4 separate regions of the Homo sapiens genome follow, and all the other regions are linked to region 1. Evidence: fine-mapped expression QTL. A gene starts in region 1. Each other region holds a variant in brackets. All regions are shown on one strand. Distances are from middle to middle.

Region 1 (5,153 bases):
TTTTTTTTTTTTAAAGAGATGAGGTCTTGTTATGTTGACCATGCTGGTTTTGAACTCCTGGCCTCAAGTGATCCTCGTAAACTAACTTTGAAACTTATTATAGCAGGCTTGTTGTGATCAGGTGAAGTTATATCAGGCCCAAACTTTGTATGTTTGTCTGACTCCAGTTTTGAATTGCATGAAATGACTTAATCTTTCCATTATTCTGCTTAAAAAACAATTCAAATTTAGGAATGAGACTCCACAATGAAGCCCCACAGCAACGAAAGTGGTCAGCTTGTTTCTAAATGGAAATCCCCAACTGCCACACCACATCAATCATCTGACATATAATCTCACTTCCACTAAGCTGGAATCTACTTTAAACGTCAGGTCTCTGGATGAAGAATTTTAGTTTAGTGGGTTATGTAGCAGAAATGCCTAAATCCAGAGCACTATTTTAGTGTTGGCAGAAATAGCTTCTCTTCAAATAGCAGGGAAGAAAGAACAAGGATTTTAAGTTCAAAGTTTTTGTCTAAGCACATTTTCTAATGTTTCTACCCGTTATCTCATTAAAAAGAATAAAGAAATAGGGGTGGGGATAGAACCACATTCATCTACTTTCATAGAAGGTGCATACTGGAGTCCTGCAGATACAATTTATTTGATCTATATTTTAAAAATTAGGGAAATGCCACATTAGAAAACAGTTCCAGGTTTTTGGTTCTCTTAAGAAACTGGAACCTCTGGGCACAGTGTGTGTGCCTATCTTCTTTTGTGGAAAAGTAGGCTGGAGCTGAGAATTGGCTGCTCTCTTTACACAGGCTCTACAGTTTGCCATTCCCTACCACTCCTGAATGTTTTACACCCATATTTATTTTGTTGCTTCACCCTGCAGTCGGGAGACTCCTGCAGTTTATGAAATTGATACAACAGGGCTTTTTTTTTTTTTTTTTTTTTTGGTAGGGGGTGCAAATCTCTTTGATTTGAGGGGAACGCAGTGGTCGCTTTTGCTTCCAAACAGCCTTAAATCTGCCCGTTTTTCAACGATCTGACCTTACTTTTTCAGGGTGGCCAAAAGCACAAAATTATGAATCAAAGAATGGTCCCCAATTACCACGAGCCAGCTGTGTGACCTTGGGCGACTCCGTTAAGTTCTTTTAGCCAAGAGTGATGAATGGTCTGCAAAACGACCTTAATACCTGTTCTGAATACCCCCACATGGCTGTGGTACAGCAGGCGTGAGATGTTTAAAGTACTCCTAAGTAATTTATAAACTGCAAAACGCTTCCCAGCACAAGCGTCCGCTACAGAGCGCGACGACACCGAGCCGGTTTAGAAGTCCAGTTACTGGAATCCACTCCAGTTCCGTCCTGCTCCCACCTCCTACGCTCAGGGTGGGCGAGCGGAAGGAGACTCTCAAGGGAGAAGGCCTGGAAAACTGGCTAAGAAACGAAGCGAGAAGTTCCTCAGCAGGGGTAAAGTTGTTGGCGGCATTTTTAAGCCCCTAGAGTGGCACAGCGACTCCCGGTCGAGATGACGGACCCCGGTGCGTGACCAGCGCGGGAGCCAGTCCCGGGCCACCTCCCTGCTTGAAGTCGGGCCTGGCCAGTACCCTCCCGGCGCAACCCCGGACCCGGGACCCCCGACTTTGCCCTAGTCCCCAACCCCCACAATCACCTCCCTTGGTCCCCCTCCACGTGACAAGAGCCGGAACCGTCACTTCCGGCGGCGCGGGCAGCGCGCCTGCGCGGGTCGCCCGGCCTCAGTGAGCGGTTGGCAGCAGCGCCCCCCCCCCCCCCCCGCCAACGGCCACGAGTGGCGGGCGGCGCGGGTTCGGCCGGGGCGGCGGCGGCGCGACGGGCTGCGGTCCTGCGGGTTTGTGGCCTGAGACGTCTAGCCCACTCCCTGGAGGGGCCGGCCGCCCAGCCTCTTTCGCTCTCTTCCTCTACCCCGGCTCGCGCTCCAGGCGCTTAGTGAGGCGGCGGGACGCCCGGGGCACTGGCGGAGGCGGCGGCGTCGCCCCTGGATTCGGACCCGCCCCCTCGCGCCCCGCCCCGTCCCCGCCCTCCCCACCGCCCTCTGCGGGAGCCGGGCAGCTGCAGCGGAGCCGCGGAGCGGGCGGCGGGGCCCAGGCTGTGCGCTTGGGGAGCGCGGAATGTGAGGCTTGGCGGGCCGCAGCACGCTCGGACGGGCCAGGGGCGGCGACCCCTCGCGGACGCCCGGCTGCGCGCCGGGCCGGGGACTTGCCCTTGCACGCTCCCTGCGCCCTCCAGCTCGCCGGCGGGACCATGAAGAAGTTCTCTCGGATGCCCAAGTCGGAGGGCGGCAGCGGCGGCGGAGCGGCGGGTGGCGGGGCTGGCGGGGCCGGGGCCGGGGCCGGCTGCGGCTCCGGCGGCTCGTCCGTGGGGGTCCGGGTGTTCGCGGTCGGCCGCCACCAGGTCACCCTGGAAGAGTCGCTGGCCGAAGGTACGGGCGCCCGGGGAGGCTCGGACAGGCAGGTGAGGGAGGGTTGGGGTGTGGCGGCGGCTTCTCCGGGTCCTCGCCCTCCGGACTGACTCTTATACCCCATTCTTCCTCTGCTGCCGGGCCAGCGGGGGCTCCTAAAGAGTGGCTCGGGCTTTCTCTCTTAAGCTGGCTTTTCTTGCCGCTGGCTGCCCCGGCCGGTGCACAGTTCTCTCATGCCTAGTTTAAATCATTTTCTGTGCTTTTTGACGCGAGAAAATAGGTAGTAGACGGGCTAGGAAGTGGGTTGGTGTTACGATTGGGCCAGTGACTCATTAGAGGGTCAGATCGAACAGGGTTGAAGCTCCGTTCTGCCAGCTGTGGCTCAGACGGGTGTCATGCGTTGGCCTTTTCATCTAAGCCTCCACCCGCGCTGCAGGGCATAGGACCCTGCAGCCCCTGGTGTCAAGCTGGGCTTTGCTGCAGCTCAGTCATCTGTTGAAAAACAATGTATTTGTGTGCATGTGTGCGTGTTGGAGGTGATCCTTTGCTCTAAATTCAGTTAGTAGGTTGCACTGAGGAGCAGGTAAACTTGGAGCCCATTTATCTTTGTTATTTAGAATCTTCTCTGTTGGACAAGGTGCTATTCATGCCCTCCCAGTATGTCTCTTTGATAGTAGTTTAAAAGGTGATATAAAAGCAGGTTAACTTTCACTTAACGAGGTTTTGTGGTCGGTCCTTCATGATCTGGAACAGGTTATGACGGCAGGTAGAAGTCTACTTACAAAAAAAGTTTACTCCATTTTAAAAGAAGAACTTAGAATTTAGTTTTGTATTTCTGGCATAATTGCCTTGTAGAAAATACTTGCCCTGTGTGCTGCATGCTTCATTGGCCTTTGAGTTTTTAGTTGCAAAATGATACTACAAAATAAACACTTTAAAAGAAATACTTTTTGTTGATAAATGGCCCTTTTAAGTTCTATGGTTAAGATAAAAAAAATCGAAGAGTGGATTCAGTTCTCCGAGCGTTAGACGTTGATGTGGTTTGAAAACAGTAGACTGAGATTCCGCTTGTATTTTTTGAAATGCTATACACAACAGTAAATTAGCACAAGGGAAAAAACCTGAAGATTTTTGTATAAAATATTTGAAAGAGAAAGAAATCGTGAATTATTCAAGTGTACATATCATTGTTTCGTGAACCATTGCTCAGAATAATGATCTTAGCCGAAACTTGGAGAGGTGGGAGAAGGAGGATCCTTAGTTTTTCAGAAGAATGAATATGTGGTGAGTGGTCTTTATAAAAGATTTACTATACTATAAAGTTTTCTAGCTCTTTATTACACATGAATTTCAATTATTGGTTTAGATTGTGTTGTAGGTTTTAAAAGCACATGGCTCTTCACTCAAATGCCATATTCTGTCTTTGAATTGTTTTAGTAACTAATTGAAATGTAGCTTGAGTAGTGTTACACTCACTCATTCCACTAAATCCCAGATGGGTCTTTTATTTAATAGAAAAAAAATACTGACATTTCACAAATTAGATTTTGAATTTGTAACTTGTATTACTCACTACCCTAAGCATATCTTATCACTACCCTAAGCAAGCCATTTTCAATAAAAAAATAATTTTGGAAAGTAATAAAGATGAATTTCAAAAGGAGAGTTCGTTCAACCACAACGAAGAATAAAAGTTTATTTCAAGCGCTAATGTCACTGTTAGAGTGTTCCACTGACTTTTGCCATAAATGTATCATTTCTCTTGAAAAGTCAATAATCAAATGCTAGGAGGAAGCAAGGACTGAAGAAATCCTTTTAGAAGATGAAACTTCTCCATCCTACACCCCAGCTTTAATTTCCTAGAAGGGAGGCCAAGGCCTAGGTTTTCTTTCCTTGTGTATTTTTTCTGTCTCCATCACCCACACAACTGGAATTGTCTATGTATAATCAGTTTAATTTTGATCCTGGCCGGTCTTATTTCAGATGCTTAATATCCCCTCTCCCTTCCTAATAAATAGTGCCACAATTTAGACAAGATGTTTAAGCACAAGTCTAGTTCGCATTTAAGCGTGATTAATCAATAATTGATGGGTCTGCCTGATCATAAGATTGGGTCATGTACTTGTGAAAATGCATTCAAGTTTAGAGTACTTGATTTGGGGAGAGGGATACCACTGAGTAGGCAAAGCGGTAGAAGCTAAGATAGACCAAAGCACAGACTTGGTAGATTTTGCATTTTTTGTTTTGGCCCAAAGTTGTTTAAACAGAGCCAGGAAGACTCAGTAGATACTGTGCCCTGAAGTGTTTTTGCCATGCTCCTGCAAACATTGGTAGTTTACTCATAATGACCTCTGCAGTGTCTTTTTAATAAATCCGTCCGTCTCTCTGTTGTTATTTTTATATAATTAGTTATGTTGCAAAAAGTCACCGTGAAAACTGGATTAGCAAACACTGAACCACTGCTCCTACTATGGTGTTAGATTCCTGAAAGCTGCTGTTCACAACATTTTTGTCAACTGATCAAGATACAACCTTGTTTTATGTCTGTTGCAGTTTAAATACACCTTATTTAATATATTTGGTTGATTTATTAACATTGAAATCATGGCCAACAGCTCTGTAAATCATGCCTCAATGAAGATTATCTCACACTTGTATTTTCTCTGTAGTCTTTGCTCCTTGAACACTAGACAGCACTTTAGCACTACGCTTAGGGACTGTTTTCA
Region 2 (5,153 bases), 60 kb before region 1:
ATTACAGTCAAAGGGGGTTTGTTCTCTGGCGGGCAGGAGTGGGGGGTCACAAGGTGCTCAGTGGGGGTGATTTTTGAGCCAAGATGAGCCAGGAAAAGGACTTTCACAAGGTAATGTCATCACTTAAGGCAAGGACCGGCCATTTTCACTTCTTTCGTGGTGGAATGTCATCAGTTAAGGTGGGGCAGGGCATATTCACTTCTTTTGTGATTCTTCAGTTACTTCAGGCCATCTGGGCATATACGTGCAAGTCACAGGGGAAGCGATGGCTTGGCTTGGGCTCAGAGGCCTGACATTCCTGCCTTCTTATATTAATAAGAAAAATAAAACAAAATAGTGTCGAAGTGTTGGGGCAGCGAAAATTTTTGGGGGGTGGTATGGAGAGAGAATGGGCGATGTTTCTCAGGGCTGCTTCAAGCGGGATTAGGGGCGGCGTGGGAACCTAGAGTGGGAGAGATTAAGCTGAAGGGAGGTCTTGTGGTAAGGGGTGATATTGTGGGGATGTTAGAAGAAACATTTGTCATATAGAATGATTGATGATGGCCTGGATACGGTTTTGTATGAATTGAAAAACTAAATGGAATAACAAAAGGAGAAAAACAGGTATAAAAGGTCTAAGAATTGGGATGACTCAGGATATCTGATTAGAGACTGCCTAAGGAGATTCAGCATAGTCCTGCCAGCAAAGATTATTTATTTACTTCAAGAGTTAAGAGTGGCAGTTTGGGGATAGCACCAGGAGATATCAGCTGTGATGGCTTGGAAAAACAGTGTAAACCGGCAGTGTAAACAAGAGCAGGGCATGTTTGAGTAGTTGAGAACGGTGAATAGGAGTATGACTAGACAGAAGGTAGTAGGGATGACAAGTTTTTTGGGGCACAGTCTAAGTTGGTCTGGTGTCTGGAATGAGACTGGGACCTAATAAAAAGGAGCGTCTATACAGGAGCTTAAATGGGCTGTATCCTGTAGCATTCCGAGGATAAGCCTGAATTCTGAGAAGGGAAAGTGGTAAAAGTATTGTCCAATCCTTTTTAAGTTGGTGGCTGAGCTTGGTGAGGTGTGTTTTTAAAAGACCTTTAGTCCATTCTACTTTTCTTGAAGATGGAGGACCATAAGGGATATAAAGGTTTCACTGAATACTAAGAGCCTGAAAAACTGCTTGGCTGATTTGACTAATAAAGGCTCATCTGTTATCAGACTGTATTGAGGTGGGAAGGCTAAACTGAGGAATTATGTCTGACAGAACAGAAGAAATGACTGTGGTGGCCTTCTCAGACCCTGTAGGAAAGGCCTTTACTTATTCAGTGAAAGTGTCTATTTAGACTACAAGGTATTTTAGTTTCCTGACTTGGGCATGTTGAGTAAAGCTAATTTGCCAGTCCTGGGTGGGGGCAAATCCTTGAGCTTGATGTGTAGGGAAGGGAGAGGGCCTGAAGAATCCCTAAGGAGTAGTAGAATAGCAGATGGAACACTGAGAAATTATTTCCTTGAGGATAGATTTCCACGATGGAAAGGAAATGAGAGGTTCTAAGAGGCGGGCTAGTGGCTTGTGCTATAGCATAGCCTGCCTTTGCTGGTGTGTGGCGATTAGGCCTGGTGGAACTGCCATCAATAAATCAAGCGTGATCAGGGTGAGGAACAGGAAAGAAGGAAATATGGGGAAATGGGGTGAATGTCAGGTGGATCAGAGAGATACAGCCATGGGGGTCAGGTGTGGTATCAGAAATAATGTGGGAGGCCGGATTGAAGTCCGTGCCAGGAACAATGGTAATTGTGGGAGACTTAACAAAGAGTGAGTACAGCTGAAGGAGCCGGGAAGCAGAAAGTATATGTGTCAGGTATGAGGAAGAAAATAGATTTTGGAAGTTATGAGAACTGTAGAGAGTGAGTTGAGCATAGTTTGTGATTTTGAGGGCCTCTAAACGTATTACAGCAGTGGCAGCTGCTGCACGCAGACATGAGGGCTAGGCTAAAACAGTAAGGTCAAGTTTGGACAGAAAGGCTACAGGGTGTGGTCCTGGCTCTTGTGTAAGAATTCTGACCGCGCTAACCATGCCTAGGAAGGAAAGGAGTTGTTGTTTTGTAGAAGGTGCTGGGGTTTGAGGGGTCAGTCGGACACGATTGGCAGGGAGAGCACGTGAGTTTTTATGAGAATTATGCCGAGATAGGTAACAGATGAGGAAGAAATTTGGGCTTGATTGAAGTAATGGGGGCTGTCTGTGAAGCTTTGCGGCAGTACAGCCTAGGTAATTTGCTGAGCTTGATGGGTGTCAGGGTCAGTCCAAGTGAAAGCGAAGAGAGGCTGGGATTAAGGGTGCAAAGGAATAGTAAAGAAAGCATGTTTGAGATCTAGAACAGAATAATGGGTTGTAGAGGCAGGTATTGAGGATAGGAGAGTATATGGGTTTGGCACCGTGGGGTGGATAGGCAAAACAATTTGGTTGATAAGGCGCAGATCCTGAACTAACTTGTAAGGCTTCTCTGGTTTTAGGACAGGTAAAATGGGGGAATTGTAGGGAGAGTTTATAGGCTTTAAAAGGCCATGCTGTAGCAGGCGAGTGATAACAGGCTTTAATCTTTTTAAAGTGTGCTGCGGGATGGGATATTGGCGTTGAGTGGGGTAAGGGTGATTAGGTTTTAATGAGATGGTAAGGGGTGCATGATCGGTCACCAAGGAGGGAGTAGAGGTATCTTATACTTGTGGGTTAAGATGGGGAGATACAAGAGGAGGACACAAAGGAGGCTTTGGATTGGGAAGAAGGGCATCAATGAGATATAGCTGTAGTCCAGGAATAGTCAGGGAAGCAGATAATTTAGTTAAAGTGTCTCAGCCTAATAAGGGAACCCGGCAGGTGGGGATAACTAAAAAGGAGTGCTTAAAAGAGTATTGTCTAAGTTGGCACCAGATGGGGAGTTTTAAGAGGTTTAGAAGCCTGGCTGTCAATACCCACAACAGTTATGGAGGCAAGGGAAACAGGCCCTTGAAAAGAAGGTAATGTGGAGTG[G/A]GTAGCCTCCATATTGATTAAGAAGGGGATGGGCTTACCTTCCACTGTGAGAGTTACTGGGAGCTTGGCGTCCGTGATGGTCTAGGGGGCTTCCGAGGTGATCAGGCAGTGTCAGTCTTCAGCCGCTAAGCCGAGAAGATCTGGGAAGGAGTCAGTCAGAGAGCCTTGGGCCAGAGTTCCAGGGGCTCTGGGAGTGGCTGCCAGGTGAGTTGAACAGTCCGATTTTCAGTGGGGTCCCACACAGATGGGATGCGGCTTAATAGGAATCCCAGGCTGCAGGCATTCCTTGGCCTAGTGGCCAGATTTCCGGCACGTGTAGCAAGCTCCTGTGGGAGGAGGTTCTGGAGGAACGCCTGGTCGCTGCAGTTCAGGTGTTTGGAAGTTCTTGTGTGCTGGAGATGTGGCTGGGGTTTGTCTCACAGTGGAGGCAAGGAATTGCAACTTTTTTCTATTATTGTACACCTTGAAGGCGAGGTTAATTAAATCCTGTTGTGGGGTTTGAGGGCGGGAATTTAATTTTTGGAGTTTTATTTAATGTTGGGAGCAGATTGGGTAATAAAATGTATTTTGAGAATAAGACGGCCTTTTGACTTTTTAGGGTCTAGGGCTGTAAAGTGTCTCAGGGTTGCTGCCAAACAAGTCATGAACTGGGCTGGATTTTTATATTTGATGAAAAAGAGCCTAAACGCTTCTGATTTGGGATGAAGAAAAAGGAGCATTAACCTTGACTATGCCTTTATCTCCAGCCACCTTTTTAAGAGTAAATTGCTGGGCAGGAGGGGGAGGGCTAGTCATGGAACGAAACTGTAAGCCAGACCAGGTGTGAGGAGGGGAGATGATAAAAAGATTATAGGGTGGAGGAGCAGAGGCTGAGGAAGAATTGGGACCTAGCTCGGCCTGGCGAGGAGCAGCCTGGGGAGGAAGGGAGAGGTCAGATGGGTCTGTAGAAAGGGAAGATTAGAAAGACTCAGCGACGCTTGGGGTTGGTACTGAGGGGACAGGCGGGAGGGACAGAAGGAAGATTTGGGAAGAGTTGCACTGGGCACAGAGACTAGGAAGGGACTGATGTGTAAAAGAATGCCTGGACGTCAGGCACCTCAGACCGTTTGCCTATTTTACGGCAAGAATTATTTAGATCTTGCAGGATGGAAAAATTCAAAGTGCCATTTTCTGGCTATTTGGAACTACTGTCGAGTTTGTATTGGGGTCAAGCGGCATTGCAGAAGAAAATAAGGCATTTAGGTTTTAGGTCAGGTGTGAGTTGAAGAGGTTTTAAGTTTTTGAGAACACAGGCCAAGGGAGTAGAAGGAGGAATGGAGGGTGGAAGGTTGATGATAATGAAGGAAGCAAGCCTAGAGAAAAGAGAGAGTAGAGAAATGGAGGGAAGGGGTTCGGGGGTTCTTACCTTCCAGAAAAGTGGGAAAAGGGGTTGGGGCACAGAGATAGGAGGTCAGGGCATGGAAATAAGGGATGGGGTGCAGAAATAAGGGGTTGGGGCACAGAAATAAGGGATCAGGGCATGGAAATAAGGGATCGGGGCATGGAAATAAGGGATTGGGGTGCAGAGATAAGAGGTCGGGGCACAGAAATAAGGGATTGGGGCACAGAGATATAAGAGGTTGGGGCACGGAAATAAGGGATTGGGGTGCAGAGATATGAGGTTGGGGTACTTGCCCCTCTTCTAGAAAAGCGGGACTTGCCGCTAAGAATGAAGGAGAAGGGGTTGAGGGGTACTTGCCCCTCCCCCAGAAAAGCAGAGAAGGGGTAGACACAAGGAGAGAAGGGGTTGGGGTACTTGCCCCTTCCCCAGGAAAGCAGGACTTGCTGCTAAGGGTGAAGGACCAAGGCAGGCGTCCCTGCGTGGTCTGGCACCTTTGAAACATGGGTGAATAATGACAGAGGCGTCCCTGCAATGATTAAACACCAAGGGAAGGCTGCCTTCCCAGTCCGTGACCGGCGCCGGAGTTTTGGGTCCACAGATAAAATGTGTCTCCTTTGTCTCTCCCAGAAAATGAAAGGAATTGAAATTAAGAGAGGGGAGAGATTGAAGAGTGGAAAGGAGAAAGTGGTTGAGGGACAGTGAGAGAGGTTGGAGAAGAGAGTAAGAAGAGGCTGCTTACCTGATTTAAAATTGATGAGATGTTCCTT
Region 3 (5,153 bases), 120 kb before region 1:
ATTTTCATATCTCCAGCCCAGATTTCTCCCGTGTGTCTTGACTTGATATCTAATTTCCTACATGACATCTCTCTTTGGATGACTAATAATCATCTCAAATGTGTATGTCCAATACCAGACTGCTGATCTGCCTCCAAACCTGTTTTTCCTGTAGTCTTGTGCACATAAGTTGAAGGCAACGCCATCTTTTTACTTTCTCATGCCAAAAAACTTGGAGTCCTTTTTGATTTATCTCTGTCTCTCACACCCCACATCCCATCCATCAGCAAATATTTGCATCATGTCTCACTGGATACTGCAACCATCTCCTTGCTGATCTCACTGCTTTTCAGCCTATTTCACAACCCAGCGGTTGAAATAGTTCTTTTAAAACATAGGTCAGATCATGTCATTTCTCAAACCTACCAAATACTTCCATTTCACTCAGAGTAAAATACAAAGTCCTTATAATGGCCATACACAATCTGCCCCCTCCCCATCTCCTTACCCATCTCACTTCATGTCCTGCTATTTTCTCCTTTGTTTGTCTCTGCTGCAGCCACACTGGCCTTCTTACTGTTCTATAAATATGCCAGGCACTTTCCTGCCTCAGGGTCTATGTACTTCCCATGCTTTCTGCTCTTCCAGATTTCTGCAGAGCTCATTTCCTACCTCCTTTATGTCTTTACTTGTTCATCTTCTCATGCGACTTTCCTACCATGTTTAATTGCAAACTCCTGCCCCCAACACTCCATGTCTCTCTTTCTACCTTATTTTTCTCCATCATGCTTATCACTCACCAACAGACCTCACTTATTTGGTTTATTGTCTGTCTGCCCCTACTGACAGACAGTTCTTTTATCTATTTTGATCATTGCTGTATACTTAGCACCTAGATAGTGCCTGGCACATACTTGGTGCTTCAAATACACTTGCTGAATAAAGTATGGGCATGCTATGAAAAGGCATAGATAGGTAAGGACTTTTGGGTCCAGATTGTGAGAAAGTCATTGGCACCAAGATGTTTTCACTCAATTTTCTGAGTCCTATTACAGAATCCTGGCCAAAAGTATAATACACCAAAGAACCAGAATTATCACAGGTGAAGTAAACCAGGCCAATTGTTTTCTAGATCCTCTTAGGTATTTTTGTGAATTATACATGTTATGGGAAATTTTAAACTTGTCTATACTAAAGCAAATTAGAATGCTTTGATAAAGCTTATTTTGGATTTCTCAGTGCTTCTCCTTGGTCACAAAATATGGCAAGGGGTTCTAGAAATAGATTTAGTGGGGGAAGGAAAGAAACTAACATGGAATCGAGTGACTTCTAAATTTCTAAACCCCTTACATCTCATTTAAACTTTTGACAACTTTTGAGTCAAGAAACATTATTCCAGCTATGAATATATACAAATTGAGGTTCGGGCCTGGTGAAATGACTCATGCTGGTAATCTCAGCACTTTGGGAGGCCAAGGCAAGAGGACGGCTTGAGCCCAGGATTTTGAGACCAGCATAGGCAACACAGCAAGACTCTCTCTCTACAAAAAATTAAAAATTTATCTGGGCATGGTGACACACACCTGTAATCTCAGCTACTCAAGACGCTGATCTGGGAGGATCACTTGAGCCTAAGAAATCAAGGCTGCAGTGAGTCATGATTGTGCCACAGCACTCCAGCCTGGGTGACAGAGCAAGACCTTGTCTCAAAAAACAAAAAAAAATCAAACTGAGGTTCAGAGAGAAATATTAATTTCTCCAATTTTGCACAGCCAGCAAATGGCAGGCTTAGAATTCCATCCACTAGCTAACTGAGTAGTATAGGACCTAGACCAAGCTTGTCCAACCCACGGCCCACAGACTGCATGTGGTCCAGGACATCTTTGAATATGGCCTAGAACAAATCTGTAAACTTTCTTAAACATTATGAGATTGTTTTGCGATTTTTTTTAAGCTCATCAGCTATCATTGGTGTTAGTGTATTTTATGTGTGGCCCAAGACAATTTTTCTTCCAATGTGGCCCAGGGAAGCCTTGAACACCCTGACTTAGACTTTATAGCTAATAGCTTGACAAATTAGGTGACTTAGGAGAAATCATTTAATATTTGTCTCAGTTGTCTGCCAAAAAAAAAAAAAAATGTAAATTCACTTCAGACACACATCTTAGAATAACCCAGGGTGATAATTTCAGATTTTTCTGGCTCTTGTTTATTTCTTAGCTCCTTCAGAAGAAAGAAAATGTTCTAAATGTTAGGATCCACTGGGGCTGTTATGTTTCCTAGTTCAAATCTTTAAACTGTTGTTAAACCACAACAATTACCACAAGCACAGAGCCTCCTGGAACATTTTCCCAAGTAAAACAAATACTCTAGCTGTGTGAGGGTATCAGGCAAAGCTAGAAATGGGACTCCTTGCTGGCTATCCATGTGAAGGGCTTTGTTTAAGGAAATGCTATGTTGCCAGCACAGTCACTTGTCAAAGACAATAGCTGTTGGCAAAGCATTAATATGTGAGGATTGGGAGAGCTGCCAGTGGAAGCAAACTGTTTTGTGGTGTGTACAATGTTGTGCTGGGACATCAGCTGAAGTTCACCATTGATGACCATCTGAAAACTGCCTTCCACTCACAGTACACTCAAATGGACAACTCAGCAAATTGAAGAATGAATTTCTAGGGAGAGGCAACACGGTATAATTAATGAAAAAAGAACTAGAATAGAAGTGAAAACCCCTCATTTTAATTCCAATGTTGTGACTCTGATACCTCCTTTAATTTCCCTGCATCATTTTCCTTATTCACTCACTTACCCAGGCACTCAACCAGGCATCCAGCAAGTATGTATTGAATGCCAGCTTGTATTCAAGGCACTGGGTGAAATGATGTGATCATTTCATGATTCTGCTTTATGTATGTTAGAGATAATAGTCCCATCTGCCTCAAATTGATGTAATGAGGATGAAAACCCAGTTTCCACTTTGGTAGAAATGGAAATATGTTTGTCTTGCCTACTTCATGGATCTATTATGAGAATCATAAGAGATAATTATGTGGGTATACTTAATGAACTTAAAGTGTTAGATAGATA[T/C]GCGAAAAATAAGTAAATAAATACTTTGACCAGAACAAAACTTACATCATTGCTGAATATTACTTGGGGAGAGAGGCAGAGAGAGAGAGAGGCAGAGAGAGACAGAGAGAGAGACAGACAGAGACAGAGAAAGAAAATGCAAATGAGATCCAGTGCCACTTACCTATTCTTTTCTTTTTTTCAGTGAAAGCAAGACTTACAACGATAAAAATAGAAGTTAGTTTCAATAATTATTTTTATAATTTTTTCAGTGAAAATCCACAGACAAGAACCAAACTCATGGTTCTCAAATTATACTCTTATACTGATTATCAGTAGTTTTAGGTGTTTGGGTTCTGAAATTCAATGCTAGGACTGGGAGTAGAGGATTTTATTGCTAATATATCAGGATTAGGTTTTGCTGCACATTTAAAAAAAAAAAAAAAGCAAACTACCAAAGCCTAAAGCAAGCTGGAATTTGGGGGTTTCTTTTCTCAGATAAAAGGAGTTGGAAGAGAAACTATCTAGCTATGGCCACTCCATAATATCATCTGGGACCCCCAGGCTCTTTTCTCTATTATCTTAACACATGGCTTTTATTATTAAGGTCATCTCTGGGCTGCTGAAGCTCCAGTTATCACACCTGCATTGCAAGCCAAAATAAGAAGGAGATGCAGAAAGTATCACCCCCAGCTGAGTAAAATTGTGTTAAGTAGCCCTTCTAAACGTTTTATCTAGGAATTATGCTTTCATATCTTTGACAGAGATTAGTCACGTGGCCACAGTTAGCCACAGGGGTGACTAGGAAATGTAGTTTTTGTCTTGAGAGCTATTCTGCTGGGATAAGAATCAAGGTTAGGCAACTAGCTATCTTTTCCACACAAAATATTACAGAAAAAAGATGTTAATGGATAGAATGTTCTCAATTACACATTTTTCTCCATACCTTTTACATATTCCTTTGGTTTTAAGAATATTATCATTCTCCTATAATAGTATACAATAGTATATGATTCAAAACAAAATTATAAACTGGATTTTTTTAACAATCTATTTATATTTCATTTTATCCTACAAAGAGCAACATGATTTTCAGTTGTTTTATCACATGAATATATTCAAGCCCCATTAATCCAAATCAAATAAAATTATGGAAGTCTAGAAATCCATTCTGTATGGAAGCAAGCTAACAGCAGCGTTCCATCTTCTAACAGCCTTAGCCCAGGAGCATTTACCAGTAAGCATATTGATTTGAGCGTCAGCATAAAATAAGGCATCCCTGAATTTTTACCAACAAAGAAAAGTGTCCTTGCACTGTGGTCACAGCATGTGTATCTTTCTACATCTGCCCTCAAATTCCCAACAACATGATTGTGCTCTGAGTGGAAGCCTCTTGGTGTTCTGTGTTGCCTTCATCCATATAAGTATATGTAGGTCTTTCTGTTCATTTAGAGTTTGCCTTTTGTGTGTGTGACAGGGTCTTACTCTGTCATCTAGGCTAGATAGAGTGCACCAGTGTGATTGTAGCTCACTGCAGACTTGACTTCGTGGGCTAAAGAGATCTTCCTGCCTCAGCCTCAGCCCCTGACCCCTGACCCCCAGGAATTACTGGTGCATACCACTATGCCCAGCTAATTTTTTATTCTTTATTTTTTAGAGATGGGGTCTGATTATGTTTCCCAGGCTGGTCTCAAACTCCTGGGCTCAAGTGATCCTTCCACCCCACTGTCCCAAGTGTTAGAGCACATCATGGGTGTCAGCTACTGCACCCAGAGAGAATCTGCCTTAAGACTTTAAAGAATTCTGAGCAATAGTGTCTGAGGGGCTCATTCCCTAACCTAACGAGGATTACAAACCAGCTGGGTTATGAAAGAGCAGCAGCCATCCAAAACTGTCCTGATTGGGGAAGTGAACTCTGCATGCCACAAAGCAGGAATGGCAGCCAAATGAGAAACATATGCTCTGGATTCTGATGCAAAGTTTTTATTTCTTTAAAAACAACTGCATTAAAGTGACATAAACTTAAATTTAATCCAATTTGGACCTTACTGGAAAACAGTATGAATTTTGGGTGAAATATTTTGGAGAAATTTGAAATATCTACTATGT
Region 4 (5,153 bases), 170 kb after region 1:
AGCCTGTTATTTGAAACAAAGTAGAAAGATGCCCAGAGATTATCAGACACAGAGAAAGTAGCTGAGTTATGATAATGATGGGACACTAGAGTAAAGAACTAAAAATGGCACTTTGGGAGGCCGAGGCAGGCGGATCACGAGGTCAGGAGATTGAGACCATCCTGGGTAACACCGTGAAACCCTGTCTCTACTAAAAATACAAAAAATTAGCCGGGTGTGGTAGCGGGTGCCTGTAGTCCCAGCTACATGGAAGGCTGAGGCAGGAGAATAGCATGTATCCGAGAGGTGGAGCTGGCAGTGAGCCGAGATTGCGCCACTGCACTCCAGCCTGGGTGACAGAGCGAGACTCCGTCTCAAAAAAAAAAAAAAAAAACCCTAAAAATGGGAACTGCTTTGGTCTTCAGCAGTGTACCCATGAAACCTTTTGCAAAATGACTTCTGGATTTATTTCAACAATTTATGGCCTTTTTCAGTTCTCCCTAGTCCATTTACATGACTTAACTTTCCAGTTATGCACTCTAACAACAAGCACTAAAAAAACACTTATAAAATTCACAAACAAATATGAAAAGGTAGATATAGCAACAATCCATGCCTGAGTCCTAGAGTGAGAAAGAGATCTATAGGTAAAAAAACAAAATAATAGAAATGGAAAGAGCTCTTCTATTCAAATCTGTAAGACAATGGAAGCAGGAGCAACACTGCTTTGGGACACCTCTAACAGAGGGTAACACAAAGGTGAGAGGGCGCATTTCCCCACAGATAACAATGACATTGTGGCACTTTGAGGGCTCTGGCTGTTTAGTCATGGTGCTTAACAGAGATCTTCAGCAGCATGTCTGGTGGAAGAATAAAACTTGTTGATGCACTTGGTGAGGCACCAGCATCTGTGATAGGTGGAGATCGACAGCATCCAGCAGGAGACTTTGGTGCCTCTTGAAGTGGCAGGTTGGGGAACTGAACTGTCCAGTCAAAGATAATGGGAAAATGGTAGCACCCTATCATGAACAACTGCGAGACAAATCCTGGATTTTAGAGATGCTTGAGGTGGTGTGGATGGGAATGGGATGCAGTTCTCAAGGAGCTGAAGTCCTGAATTTCCAAGTGGGAGCAGGAGCCTGGGGACAGGAGACATGGGGGCTGAATGGGGCCTTTGGGGTAAGACAGATCGCCTCCCCTCTCCTCCCCTCCCCTCCTTCCCTCCTTCCCTTCCTTCCTTCCTTCCTTGCCCTTTCTGCATTTGTTACAATTCAAACAGTGTTGGAGTGAGATTTGCAGGTATTGAGATGTCCACAACACAGAACTTTACATTTACTGAATTCTGACAATGTGCCACACATTTTCCTATATGCTAACAGAGATGAATAAGACAAATTTTAGACAACAACCTTTGCAGATTTCAGCAGCACTAACATTTTGATCACTCTACCATTGAACTCTCTTTTCTGGACTTTTGGGACCACCCTCATCTGGACTCTTTTCCTTATCTTTCTGGCTTGTCTATAAAGTCCCAAGGGACTTTATAGCCACTGTTTCTCTGTCTGACCCTTCCGAATGTTTTCAGGATTCCTTCTTCAGTGTTGTAAATTCTATTTTTTCCCTTTATATTTCCATGGCTTCAGTTACTGTCTTTTTCAGGTTGGATCTCCTTTCTATGCATCTGGATTTGCATGTGGAGCCGGACATAGAAACCTGAAATATTACAAATGAACTGTTATATTTTCTCCTAAATCTATTTACATCCCTAAATCTCTATTTACTCAGCCTCTTAAGCCAAAAGTCTTGCAGTCATCTCTTCCCTTGGCACAATTTTATTAGTAACCTCCTTTGCTTCCTTCCCCATCACTGCAACCAGTTCCTTGTCAATGATTTTTGACTCCCCTGCCTAATTAAGCTTGTCTGAAAAAACAAAGAAGCAGTTCATCAATTTAACTATGTCCTCTTTAATTCTACAACCATATTGCTAAAGAAAATGACAGGATGGCATGGATTGGTATTTCTACAAGTTGTTTACAATCTCTACAGAACCTTCAACATCATTTGGATATTTTAAATGTTTACTTGACATTATATGTGCCCATCTCCCCTCTTCCTTAGCAA[A/G]TCAGCTGTTTCCTATCTCACAGAGAAAATAGAGGTCATAGAGTAGGAACTCTCTCAGCTTTCTACTGCTAGCCTTCCACCTGTAAGTTCACTCACAATTAAAGCCCATTCTTTGTTTCCTTTCCTCTGTCTCAATAGAAATGACTACTTTAACACCTCCTACTTAAGGTCAACCCTGCTGCCTATTTTCTGAATCATGCTCCCCTTCGTTTCCTAATGGACCTTGCTCTGTCAATTATCCTTCTCTCAGATATGTCTCCAACCTTTCCTTCTCTATTTTTTTCCCCTTTGGTTCTTAAACATGTTGCAAACAAGCATTTTTGAGTAAACAGACTATAGAATGAGAGAAAATATTTTGAGTAAACAGACTATAGAATGAGAGAAACAGACTATAGAATGAGAGAAAATATAGAATGAGAGAAAAAAAACCTCTGTAATTTTTTTTAACATTTCAACTTTTATTATAGGTGAAAGGGTACCTGTGAAGGTTTCTTACATGGGTAAACTGCATGACACTGAGGCTTCAGGCCATCCAGGCAATAAGCATAGAACCCAACAGGTGGTTCTTTGGCCCATGCCCCCCTCTCTCCCTCCTCGATCTAGTGATCCCCAGTGTCTCTTTTTCCCATTTTTACAATCACGTGGATTCAATGTTGAGCTCCCACTTGTGAGAACACGTGGTATTTGGTTTTCTGTTCTTGTGTTAGGTCAGGTCGCTTAGGATAATGATCTCCAGCTCCATCCATGTTCCTGCAAAGCGCTGAAAGAACGATTTTGTTCTTTTTTTTGGCTACTCAGTATTCTGTGGTGTATATGTACCACATTTTCTTTAGTCCATTGTTGATGGGTATTTAGGCTGATTTCATGTCCTTGCTATTGTGAATAGTGCTGCAATGAACATACAGGTGCATGTGTCTTTATGACGGGATGAGTTATTTTCCTTTGAGTATATACCCAGTAGTGGGATTGCTGGGTCAGATGGTAGTTCTATTTTAGGTTTCTTGAGAAATCTCCAAACCACTTTCCACAGTGGCTGAACTAGTTTACATTCCCATCAACAATATATAAGCATTCCCATTTCTCCACAGTCTCACTGTATTAGTCTGTTTTCACACTGCTATAAAGATACTACCTGAGACTGGGTAATTTATAAAGGAAAGAGGTTTAGTTGACTCACAGTTCCACATGGCTGGGAAGGCCTCGGGAAATTTACAATCATGGCAGAAGGCAAAGGAAAAGCAAGCACTTTCTTACATGGCAGTAGGAGAGAAAGAGCAGGCAGGGGAAACTGCCACTTTTAAGCTATCAGATCTTCTGAGAACTCCCTTCCTATCATGAGAACAGCATGGGAGAACTGCTTCCATGATCCAGTCACCTCCCACAGGGTCCTTCCCTTGACATGAGGAGATTACAGTTTGAGATGAGATTTGGGTGGTGACACAGAGCCAAACCATATCACTCACCCTCTGTTGCTTTTTGACTTTTAAATAATCGCCACCATTCTGACTGGTATGAGATGATATCTCATTGTGGTTTTGATTTGCATTTCTCTGATGAGTACTGATGTTGAGCATTTTTTCATATTTTTTTTGGCCACTTGTGTGTCGTCTTTTGAGAAATGTCTGTTCATGTCCTTTGCCCATTTTTTAATTGGATTGTTTGGTTTTTGCTTGTTTATTTTTTTAAAGTTCCTTGTAGATTCTAGATATTAGTTCTTAGTCAGATACATAGTTTGCAAATATTTTCTTCCATTCTGTAGTCTGTTTATCTGTTGGTAATTCATTTTGCCGTGCAGAAGTTCTCTAATTAAGTCCCACTTGTCAGTTTTTGTTTTTGTCACAATTAACATAAATTCTTTGCCAAAGCCTATGTTGAGAAGGGTATTTCCTAGGTCTTTTTCCAGGCTTTTTGTAGTTTGAGGTCATACATTTAAATCTTTAATCTATCTCGAGACAATTTTCATATACGGTGAAAGGTAGGGGTCCAGTTTTATTCTTCTGCATATGGCTAGCCGCTTATCCCAGCACAATTCCCCATTGCTTGTTTTTGTTGATTTTTGTCTAAGATCAGATGGTTGTAGGTATGTGGGCTTATTTCTGGGTTCTCTATTCTGTTCACTGTTGTATGTGTCTGTTTTTATACCGTTACCCTGTTGTTTTGATTACTGTAGCCTTGTAGTATAGTTTGAAGTCAGATAGTGGGATGTCTCTGAATATGTTCTTTTTGTTAGGATTGCTTTGGCTATTCGGGCTCTTTTTTGGTTCCAAATGAATTTTAGAATAGCTTTTTCTAAATCTGTGAAAAATGACACTGGTATTTTGATAGGAATGGAGTTGAATCTGTAAATTGCTTTGGGTAGTATGGCCGTTTTAACTATATTGATTTTTCCAAGCCATGAGCATGGAATATTTTATATTTCTTTGTATTGTTTCTGATTTATTTGAGCAGTGTTTTGTAGTTCTCATTATAGAGATCTTTCACTTCCTTTATTAGATGGATTCTTAGGTATTTCATTTTCTTTGTGTCTATAGTAAATGAGATTGTGTTCTTAATTTGGTTCTCAGCTAGAACACTGTTGATGTAAAAATGCTACTGATTTTTGTACTTTGATTTTGTATCCTGAAACTTTACTCAATTTGTTTATCAGATCCAGGAGCCTTTTGGCAGAATCTTTAGGGTTTTCTAGGTATAGGATCATATTTTCGGCAAAGGGATAGTTTGACTTCTTCTTTTCCTATTTGGATGCCTTTTATTTCTTTCTCTTGTCTGATTTCCCTGGCTAGGACTTCCAGTACTATATCGAATAGGAATGGTGAGAGTAGGCATCCTTGTCTTGTTTCACTTCTCAGTGGGAATGGTTCCCGTTTTTGGACTGTTCAGTATGATGTTGGCTGTAGGTTTATCATAGATAGCTCTTATTATGTGGATGTATGTTCCTTCAATGCCTAATCTGTTGAGGGTTTCTACCATGAAGGGATGCTGGATTTTATTGAAGGCTTTTCCTGCATCTATTGAGATGATCTTATGGTTTTCATTTTTGATTCTGTTTATCA

Evidence for each region. PIP is the estimated chance that this variant, and not a neighbour inherited with it, causes the effect. A credible set is the group of variants that fine-mapping cannot tell apart.
Region 2: its variant is the best candidate, but not a certain one, in a credible set for the expression of BMP2K in blood mononuclear cells (TOPMed, PIP 0.69).
Region 3: its variant is the best candidate, but not a certain one, in a credible set for the expression of BMP2K in whole blood (TOPMed, PIP 0.56).
Region 4: its variant is the best candidate, but not a certain one, in a credible set for the expression of BMP2K in whole blood (TOPMed, PIP 0.73).

What each region holds. Positions count from the first base shown.
Region 1 is chr4:78,774,274-78,779,426 of GRCh38, forward strand. It overlaps BMP2K (BMP2 inducible kinase), which reads left to right and starts at 2,077. Exons shown (of 16, transcript NM_198892.2): 1 at 2,077-2,448. The coding sequence starts at 2,271. It overlaps BMP2K-DT (BMP2K divergent transcript), which reads right to left and starts at 1,697. Exons shown (of 1, transcript NR_186689.1): 1 at 1-1,697. RefSeq lists enhancers at 1,313-1,943, 2,576-3,206 and silencers at 1,410-1,659, 1,750-2,419, 2,781-2,981.
Region 2 is chr4:78,713,999-78,719,151 of GRCh38, forward strand. LOC101928893 (a long non-coding RNA gene) reads left to right here and starts at 2,083. Exons shown (of 3, transcript NR_188357.1): 1 at 2,083-2,137. RefSeq lists enhancers at 819-1,765, 4,516-5,087, 5,088-5,153. The variant G/A (reference allele first, on the strand shown) is at 3,006.
Region 3 is chr4:78,650,057-78,655,209 of GRCh38, forward strand. All of the region lies in intron 1 of LINC01094 (long intergenic non-protein coding RNA 1094), which reads left to right. Among named protein-coding and RNA genes, the nearest start is that of LINC01094, 6.6 kb to the left of the region's middle. The variant T/C (reference allele first, on the strand shown) is at 3,066.
Region 4 is chr4:78,942,288-78,947,440 of GRCh38, forward strand. No RefSeq gene overlaps it. Among named protein-coding and RNA genes, the nearest start is that of PAQR3, 5.4 kb to the left of the region's middle. The variant A/G (reference allele first, on the strand shown) is at 2,101.